2 linked regions of the Homo sapiens genome follow. The protein of the gene in region 1 purifies or fractionates together with the protein of each later gene. This does not show direct contact. Each region holds a gene or a part of one and is shown in the gene's direction. Other genes may lie near its edges.

The links.
Region 2: the proteins of FGF12 (region 1) and GPATCH2 purify together in Homo sapiens (affinity purification with mass spectrometry; one large-scale study listed by BioGRID and IntAct). This does not show direct contact.

The regions. Positions count from the first base shown.
Region 1 is NC_000003.12:192,719,744-192,725,048, reverse strand, and holds part of FGF12 (fibroblast growth factor 12), read left to right. Parts: intron 1-5,305. UniProt on the Homo sapiens protein: Involved in nervous system development and function. Involved in the positive regulation of voltage-gated sodium channel activity. Promotes neuronal excitability by elevating the voltage dependence of neuronal sodium channel SCN8A fast inactivation.
Region 2 is NC_000001.11:217,606,315-217,611,619, reverse strand, and holds part of GPATCH2 (G patch domain-containing protein 2), read left to right. Parts: intron 1-548; coding exon 549-731; intron 732-1,219; coding exon 1,220-1,299; intron 1,300-1,427; coding exon of another isoform or gene 1,428-1,460; exon of another isoform or gene 1,461-3,431; intron 3,432-5,305. UniProt on the Homo sapiens protein: Enhances the ATPase activity of DHX15 in vitro.

The DNA.
Region 1 (5,305 bases):
TTTATGCTGCCGTGTACAAACTTCTTCCCCCAACAGATTCAAATCTAATTCTAGGAAGACATTCTCAAATGTATGTATATATAATACTTTTCTAGTAGAAACTCTTTAAAGATAGAGTCATATTGCGTGACTCAGTTGAGGGTTCAAGAGTTCTCTATCCCATACCCAGATCTAATGGCCTGTTTAATCTTGAATCCCATCGCCAACACTTGACAACTTTCACATTACCTCTAGCATTTGACAGCCTTTCTTAGAGCATTTGTCCAGCATCCAGAAAGTTGAACTTCAGCTATTTACAAATAAGATCAATTTATTTTTGCTTCCTTATTTACAACTTTGCATCACTCCCTGTCATACAGGGTAAAGAAGAGAGGAAAATACATCAGTTGACCTGAGGTTCAATTCATGATCTAATTTCAGCGATTTTTGTGCACCATGTACTTAACATTGTCTCAAAGATTTGGGTTGGTACGCAGTCCGAGCAGCTCTGACGGAATTTGTGCCTTGCGTATCTTAAGGGCTTGAGATTCTTAAATGAGTTAAAATGTTTAGTATTTAGAGGAGTGGTTCACAAAGTTTGCTGCACACTAGAATCACCTGACATACTTTCTGAACATACTCATCCTGAGATGGCACCGCATACCAATGAAATTAGAATATTGGGGTGGAAGAAAAAAGCATATATGTTTCCTTTAGAGGTCCCTATGTACAGCAGTGTTTGGAAACCACTGATTTAGACTCTTGATAGTCAAAATGTGGTTTGCAGACAAATTTTTTAGAACTGCAGAATCTCCATATTTACTCCAGGTCTATTGAGTCAGAATTAGAATTTTGACAAAGTACCTAGGCAATTTGTATGCACATTAATGTTTGAGAAGCATGATTTGGAGTGAGGAAACAGGCTTTTTCCTTCCTTTCCTCCTTCCTTCCTTCCTTCTTTCCTTCCTTCCTTTCTTCCTTCCTTCCTTTCTTCCTTCCTTCTTTCCCTCTTCCCTCCCTTTCCCTTCCTCCCTTTCTCCCTCCCTTTTCCCTTCCTCCCTTTCTTCCTTCCCCCTCCCTCCCTTCCTCTCCTCCCCTCCCCTCCTTCCTCTCCTCCCCTCCCCTCCTTTCCTCTTCCCTCCTTTCTCCCCTATTCTCCCCTCCCCTTTCCTCTCCTCTCCTCTCCTCTCCTCTCTCTCTCTCTCTCACACACACACACACACTCTCACCTCCCACTGACCCCCACCTATATCACATTTTTCTTTGTCTAGGTAGATTTCCAGCCTCAAGCTGGCATACTACCTATAGAAACACCTGTAGAGCTTTTCAAATGTAAAGATGCTTAGGCCATACCCCTAATAATGTGAGTTTAATTAGTTCTGGGGTGGGATCTGGGCATAAGTAGTTTTAAATGGCTCCCAAGTGATGCTAATGGATGGCCAGAGTTAACCACTGATGTAGGGCATTACTGCTGGTGGTCCACAGACCAGCAGCATTTGCATCACCTGGGAGCTTGTTAGAAATGCAGAATCTCAGTCCCTACACCACATCTACCAAATCAAATCTGGATTTCAACAAAATCTAATGGTCATTTCTATGCACTTTAACATTTAAGAAGCACTGGTGTAGATCTCAGGGAACTGATTGCACCTGAGAATGAATGACACCACTCCAGGCACCTCAGTAGAGAAGATTTGATATTATCTGTCTAATCATTATGAAGGCTCATGGATATGTGATCATGTTCTAGGTCTTCTGGTTGTTTTTGGATACAACAAAAATGAAATGAAAAAGAAACTGCGTGATCTAACTCATAGTTAGATCAGAAAACAAACTTACTTTTAAATACCCTTGCTGCTCATCCTCCAATCACTTACTTTCAACCCCCAATTACCCTAAATATTTATTCTCTACATTCATTTTAAGCTCCTGACAAAGTCTGCTGTTAACTCATGGTAATGTGATGATATTTGACTACTTAAATCAAGGCACTTCTAAACAGAGTGAATATAGTTTTATCCTTTTCTATTGTCATACCTCTCTGTTCAACCCTTTTGAGATTCCTATGACCTAAGTACTCGTTTGTCCCTCACATACTGCGTTTCTTACAGTCAACATTGTAATTTTTGTGCTTTTTATTTAAACAAATATTTATTGAGCATCTGATATGTACCCAATGTGCTTATTTCTGAGAATGTGAAAGAAAACTAAGATGCAATCTCTGAACTTGACAATTTCACTCTTCTATCTTCACTAATATATTAACCTTCTCGTGGGCAAAATCTGAGCCTTTAACATTCCAGCAACCACCTAAGTGTCTATCTCAGGTAGAATATTTAAGTTTGCATAGTAGGGATTCGAATTATATGCGTTGGATAGCCTTAATTAGTTTTTTTAGGCCAACTTCATGGATCCAGAAGATTGTAAGTTGGGAGAAGTGTGGGAAACTTAGCTACCAGGAGGGCTCCCAGAAACATCAGTGTGATTCCAGAACATGGAAGGGAGTAATTTGACCCACTCTCTCAAGAGAGACCTGCACATGTATTTCCAAGGAAGATTCAATTCTTTGTTCTAGATTTCATACCAGCCATCAGAGTTCAGTCAGGGCCATGAACCAACACACTTAAGGTATAGAACAGTCATTTCTCTGAAGCCAGGATGATTTACTCTGCAGCAGAGAAAGGAAATGTCTATGCAATCATTAGTATATCAGAACTGGAAAGCGATTTTAAGAAGAGCCATTTTGTGGTTAAACAATAACAACAACAATAATAAAAGACTGAGCCAGTATAGTGAGATAAGTAAAACATAATTCAGTAAAATCATGATGTATAGTCACTGAGTGTAGGAAATACAGTTTCTTACTCCACCTGTCATGGTGTAAATTTGGACAAATCTTTTCCTCTTTGGGTCTCAAGATTCTTAAATATCAAAGGGGGTCCAGTTCATTTAATTTAAAATACCGAGTTGCCACATTGTTCCAGGCACATTATTAAATGTGGGGGACAGAGGTATAAATAGTTTATTGACTTGCCCTCTAAAAGCTTACAATGTAGGGATATATGAACAGGATCAAGAGCTGTTGATTTCTAGCATTTTATGTGTCTTCTCCATTCATCTTTCAGAGTTCTAGTAGGTTATCCGGGAGGCTAGAATATAAAGTCTTACAGTGATTAATGAGCTCCAAAGAGGCACTTAACATTCCACAGCAATAATTCCTGCCTTTTGTTTCCCCTTTGGTTTATTTAAACAAAATTATTGTGTGGGAGAACATTTGAACTCAAGCTATGTATCTACTATAAAAGCTATTCCACCTGACTAGCTACCTGCCTAACCTGTTTCTTGCTTTAGGTTATTATGAGGCTTGTTACCCTCAGTAATAGGTCTGGGGGAGGCCAACCTACTTGCCATTCCCTTATCCTTTTTCTTTTGTGCTTTTAAGTTTTTGAAGTACCAACCTTATTAGGTTTGGTGTTTTGTGCTACTGATTGACCAATAATGGTTTATTGCATCTCTTAATATTGGGTTTCCTGATTTGTCACATATTTACACCCATAAATAACGTTCGTGAAACACTTTGTACTTTTTCAAAAGGCTTTTAATATATACAATCTCCCTTAAAACCCTGTGATTTGGCATTTTAACTTTATTTTATAGATAACAAAACAAAGGATCATAAAGACTAAATGACTTAGGCAACTCATCTTACCTCTGTTTCTCTGCAAAATAAAAATTCTTATACCCATCCCAAGTGCTGTACCATAATATCATGATTATGAAATAAAACTCATGCTAATAAAGTATTTAGAACTCTTTAGAATTATAATCTGACTTTCATCATTTTTAGCTGTATCTCTCTTTACACTAGACTGTGAGATCCTGGATGGTAGAAATTGGTCCTCTGCCATTTTTGTAGTTTTAGCAGCAAGTATACTGCACGACACTCAATAAATCACCCTTCATTAACTCCCACAAAAACTTCACTTTACCAAAAGGGATTTCTTGTGTGCTTATTCTACAGTTTTAATAGTAACGTCTCCAACACCTGAATTTGTCTCTACATCTTATGGGTTTGGGGATGGAGATATATTGAGTCAAGTATTACACCTTGGATGGGTTTAAAACATAAACTGTGTAAATTCTGGCCACTAACAATGGTCTTAATCGGGGTACATCTCAGAACCACCAGACATCCTGTAATACCTGCAAGTCAGATATTTAAGAAACACTCAGGTGATGATGTATGTCCTCAATTATGAATCCATCGATAAGCTCCAAGATGGTTACTAGGAAACTATAACACATACATGTGTTCTTTATCAGGAGCACTATAGGACTTCTACTGCCTGGGCCTTGTCTTTTATTACCACCCTCTTTAGTGTTAAGAGAGTGTGTGTAGAAGAGAGATTTCATTTCTGTACTACAGACTTGGGATTGAAAATAGATATGCAAAATAGATGGCAAGAGTTTGAGGCTAAGATGACATGCCATTTTCCCCAGCATCATCTTCCTCATCTCCTTATTAGCATCCTTGCATGCAGAGCACGGTAGGATTTTTTAAGGATCTATGTCAATAGTTCTAATTTTAGCTTTCTCATCTCTCCAGTTACTTTTTGAAATAGTCTCTGTCTCCTTGTCTTTGGGAATGTGAGACTCCCACCCAGGGAGGCCGTGGTATTTAACTGCTGCGATGCTGCTGATGGCACCTAGGCAGAAGTCCCAAAGGACACCTGTTGCCCCTTCACAGATCTTTTCTTTTTTCTTTAGCGCATACTCTGCCTGGCTTTTTACCTGAAACAAGCCCCATTACTAATGATTGAAAAAGCACACATAATTGAAAGTGGGACTTTAAACTACGTGATAGAAGTAAAGGCATGCTGCCATTCTGTGGTTAGGTTTTTGTTTCTTTCTTGTTTGTGGATTGGCCATTAGCCTGAGAAGCAACCCAAAGGGACTAGACTGCAGAAAAAGAATCCAGAAACTTTCAGAGGCTGTTCAGAAGATAACTAAATGCACCAAAGAGTCCTTTACCAAGCAGGCAGGAAGAGGCAGCAATGCCAATCTCTCCCTACCTCATTCACTTCTACAATTATCACCCACGTGAAACAGGTTTTCCTCGAATCCTCCAGTACTGATAGCACTCTAACAGATTGAACAAACCTCAACACAGGTAATTTGGGAAATTTCTTTTCAGATACTTGGGAACTGAAAAATCTAGATATGCTTCCTGCTTCAAAATGTGTTGGGTTGTTTTTCTTGTTTTTCTTTTTTTTTTTTTTTTTTGCCCTTAGTCTCTTTCACATATTATAATAAATTGGGGTTAGAT
Region 2 (5,305 bases), on another chromosome or scaffold:
AGAAAGGGTTCCACAGTTTTAATACTTTTTAATTCCCAGGAGCAGATTAAGGTTTGTTTTTTCTTAACGTGGAAGGGGTAGTAACTTAAATGGATTTTCTAATAGTTTTTGCCAAAGGATTAACCAGTTTATTATTGTTTTTCACATTTTAAAATTGGTTCTAAAACATAATATTTTGTGTTTTTGTTGCTGGCAGTTCTTAGAGTCTTAAGATAACATTTCTTAAGTGAAGCTGTGGTATAAAATAAAAAGTTTTCCTTATAGATTGTATATGCAGTTGTCAAATAAAACATAGGATCCCCAATTACATTTAAATTGTAGGTAAATAACACATAATTTTTTAGTACAGGTATGTCCCATGCAGTACTTAGACATATTTCCACCAAAAATTTAGTGCAAGTATATAATACTTATATTAAAAGTTAGTCATTGATCTCAAATTCAAATTTAACTGCCATCTTGTATTTTTATTACCTGACAAGACTAATTGTGTAACTGGATGATAAAACTGAGTCTTTGGTGGGGGGGGGTTTCTTGTATTTGCACAGGTGATGATGAACAGAGTGACTGGTTCTACGAAAAGGAATCAGGTGGAGCATGTGGTATCACTGGAGTTGTGCCCTGGTGGGAAAAGGAAGATCCTACTGAGCTAGACAAAAATGTACCAGATCCTGTCTTTGAAAGTATCTTAACTGGTTCTTTTCCCCTTATGTCACACCCAAGCAGAAGAGGTCAGTAGCACTGGCTCCCTGGTAGATATAATGGGTTTAAGGTCAGTCTAGGAATATTCATTCAAGGAGGATAAGATAAAGTGGAAATTAGAGAATGTAAACACAAGATGCTGTAAAGAAACATATTGGCCACTAATATAGCTACTACATTTATCATGCTTTCAAATTATTAGAAAAATTGACTTGCTTTCTTGCTAGGCTCATTGAGAAAATGTTGAAATGATAAGAATGTTAATTCGGAAAAAAGAAAATGGGTATTTATTACTCTAGTGATTGAACACTGGTTAGTTAAGTGCTGACTGCCTTAGTACTTTGCTAGGCATTGCTTCAGTTTTTTTAAGTGTGAGTTTTGCATTTTCCCAAATAATATTCGTGGCATTCACCGCCACCACCAACTTACTTTTCTTTCTCTATTGATAGGATCCTCTTCTTCTTCTATGCTTCAGTGATCATAGAAAACTTCTAAATTGAGTACTTTGATTTTACAGGTTTCCAAGCTAGACTCAGTCGCCTTCATGGAATGTCTTCAAAGAATATTAAAAAATCTGGAGGGACTCCAACTTCAATGGTAGGCATACTTTTTCTGTGTAATTGTCATGTTTGGAAATGTTTCCATTTCTATGGAATAAAAAGCCACATCCTCATCCTTTATTCATATTCTAATGTTAAACTTAAAAATAATCCATTTTTTTGTAGGCTACAAACTGGACCAGTGAGATTCCCCTATAAACCAAATCTTCTAATGCTAATAAATTAGTTACGTTTTGAACATCTGGGGAATGACATTCGAGGGAACCTGGCTCCTGTCCTCTTCCCTGGAGGAATATCATTGAAGTGAGAGCCTCTTTGATGAAAAGATGGGGCTGTTTTTGCTGGAGGACTGGTATTCTTCCTTTTAGTCAGAAGTGAACCTGACTGGGGAGGCTTTCTAGGGATTTAGGTTGGCCCAGGGTGGATAGAAACTACTGTAAATTATATATTTTTCTCTTTTATGGTTTTTTTTTTACATTGAATCCATTTATGTATACTTGCTTTGCCAAAATGCTAACAAAGCTAGAAAATTTTAAACTTCCAGATCGACAAGTATTCCTTAATGTTTATATTGTGACTGATTAAGAATTAATTTTTACATATCTGACTGTTGTAAATAAAAATCATGATGCATTGACATTTATGGTTCATTTTTAGAGAAGTCTTATATAACCAGCATTATTTAAAATATTTGCATTTTACTCAGGGTATTTTAACAAGGGCTAAGATGAGTAGTAGGTAAGGTTGATAATCTTTGCTGGAGTTTGTATTTTGTTCAGCTTCCTTTCTACTTGGGTAATCTGCTTGTATTGCAAACTCATTGTATTTTATAGTATAGCTTTCATTGTACTGCAAAAATCATCCTCGTTTTAAATTAGCCACAGTGATAACTAGTCTGCACTAGTAGAATCATTTACCTTTTAAATTATCTGCTTTGTCTGATACCTGAAACACATCAAAATTATTATTTTGGTTTAGAGCTTAATGAAACATGTGAAAGCTGGTATTTTTAACAAATGCTGTGTGATTCTGAATCATATTGTCATGTTTAAAAGTGAGAGCTGCTTGTACATCTTTAGAATGGCAGACCATATGTGTCACTGTGAGTGTCAGAAATACTTGCATGAGCTCATTTTCACCAACTGGGGGGAAAATGTAATGTTTCTATTGATGGTATAATTTAGACACTATAATAAGTTCAGCCATTTGAGTTCTTCAAAATGGTTATATTAAAATGATATTTTTATTAAGCTTCAATAATGAAAAACAATGTGATTTAATATGTGTATTTTTATATTATTGTATGGATTAATTGTTAATTCAGCATTTAATGGCTAACTTAAATATGATTGGAAAAGAAACTTCAAGTTGCCATTGCTTTTACCTAAAGTTTTTAAAGTCTGAAAGATTTCAGCAAATGCATTAAACAGGAATGTGTGACATCTTCTTTTAGATTGCTTGTCTAATTTGGAGAGATTAAAAATGGTAAAATGCAACTTTGAGTCTCTTTACCTTTGCATATTTAAAGGTACAATAGTGTGGTGTTGGTAATTGTAAGTAAGCTTTTCTGTGCTATGTCTTTGGAGTGAAAATTCATGTTTTTTTTCTGAATTACATAAATGCTTTTGTTTTATTTTGTATAATGACTGTCTTTTAGATCTGAATAAGTCACTTTAAAACCTTGGCCTATGAACTTTGCCTTATCAATCATGAATCTAGATGAATGCTATCTAGTTCTTGGTTCAGTTTTACCTATTTTTATTTTTGGTTCACTGCTTGCTTGAGCATAGCTGGGATTTGTAGCCCATTTTCTAGGCTTATTGCAATCTCACTGTGGTATTTTATAGAAGCTATTACAACTGATAGGCTAGCTTCATGGTATTGATGATACATGGCTTAACCATACTAAAAGCTGCTTTCCCTCTCTAAATTGTAAAAAGGTGATGAAGTTTCACTTGATGGAGACATACTATATATGTGTGTTTATCATGGAACTAGTGCATTAGGCCATAAGCTGTTTTTCTGGTCTATGTTTTTTGTATTTAAAACTTTACTGAAGACAATGGACTCCTTCGGGTTTTCTTTCTTTCAACCCTGAATTGTCCTTGTTTGAATTTTTAAGTACTGTAATTTTTTTTTTTCAATAAAATCTCTGACTTGGGCAAGAAAGGTAAGAGTTCCAATTTGTGCTGCTATTTCTCTGATTTCATTTGCTAAGTTTTCATTGTTGTTGTTGTTGCTTATGCTGTTTATATTATGTATAACTATAATATCTAGTTTTAAAAATCATAATCTCACAAAACAGTCATCTTTACACAGTATCCATGACATCTGGTAATAAGAAGTGAAATTTAATTGCCTTAAACTTTCACACTGGAAAGCCAGATTGTTTTTAAGAGAGATTAATTTTCTGAGCAAAGTAAAACACATGGAGCTGCAACCCATTAAACAGAAGGCCAACAAAAGGTTTCTTAAGCAGATGAATGATGACTGCATAAATATAATGATGTAGTATCTTTGAAGGAAATGACAGAGGAAGAATCTTTTACTGAAATATCAATGTAAACATTTTTTGGGGGAAAGTTTTCAGTTGTATTATAGTTGATTCTGACTATTTGCCATAACTGTATTCTATACACTTGCTGAAAACATTGAATTAGGGAATACTGAATCATGGCTCCTAAGGGAAAGACAGGGTTAGGTTCCTGGAAGCCTCTGGTCACAACATTTTCACCAACTGATCAATAGATAACCTTGTTTTGTTTATGTTTGTGTTTAGAGACATTTAATATATATTGTTGACTTACTAACATCGAACTCATGGCCAATAGCACTATAACTTACGGCTGAACAAAGCTTATCAAGTCTTTTCTCTATAAGGCACATCCCAGCCTTCTTGCACTTAGGAGCACTAGACGGCATTTCTCAGCACTATACAAGGGGCTATTTAAAACAGAATAATCACCCACAAAAAGCACAACAATTCAAAAAAAAATCTGGTACTAATTTAGACTACAAAAGGGACATATGTTTACAGTATGATAGTTTAAACGAGTAGGAAGAAAGTCACCTGACTGACCTCTGGTAGGAATGCACGTGTATGTCGGGCAACTCAACATTTTTCACTGCTCTGTACATGTTACTGAATGACTACAAAAGTCAGAAATTGTGAGTATTGATTTTGGGGTTAACAAATAAATTTTAGCAGGCAGGCCGACTTAAAAATATGGAATCCACAATGGGAACGAGATTGACTGTATTTAGTTTTATAGAGAGCAAAGTGATATTGCAGAAAATTTATAGATTTTGAAGTCAGACCTTTGTGAATCCACACTCTGATTCTTCTTTTTAGTTGTAGTTAGATTTTGAACCTCCTTCCCTCCTTTTGTTTAATACCAACAATACTTACTTTTGCATAAGTGTCGTCAGGTTTTTAAATGAGATTGTGTATGCATAATGGGCCCAGCACCATCTCTGGTGCATAATATATATTAAATAAATGATTGTTACTATTATTAGATATATTAAACACAATAGCTGGGACTTAGAGAACATTTGTATCATGAGTCAAAGTGCAGAATTGTGGACCTTAAACTTTTCTGGTATTTCTTTTTTTTTGAGATGGGTCTTGCTCTGTTGCCCAGGCTGGAGTGCAGTGGCACAATCAAGGCTCACTGCAGCCGTGACCTCCCAGGCTCAAGCAATGCTCCCACCCCAGCCTCCTGAGTAGCAGGGTCTACAGGCGTGCACCAACATGTCTGGCTAATTTTTATATTTTTAGTAGAGATGGGGTTTTGCCATGTTGTCCAGGCTGGTATCAAACTCCTGGGCTCAAGCCTCTCAGAGTGTTGGGATTACAGGCGTGAAGCACCGCAACTGGCTTGTTCATATTTTATATAAAATTTGCCTTTACATTTAATATTTAAAGCACTTTATATGGCATTCTTTTATGTTTCTTTTATACCTCTTTTATATTTGAACTGGCCTCTTTCTTTAATATGGTCTGTGAATCATAGTTTCAAATAAATTTTAGGTTGACAGCC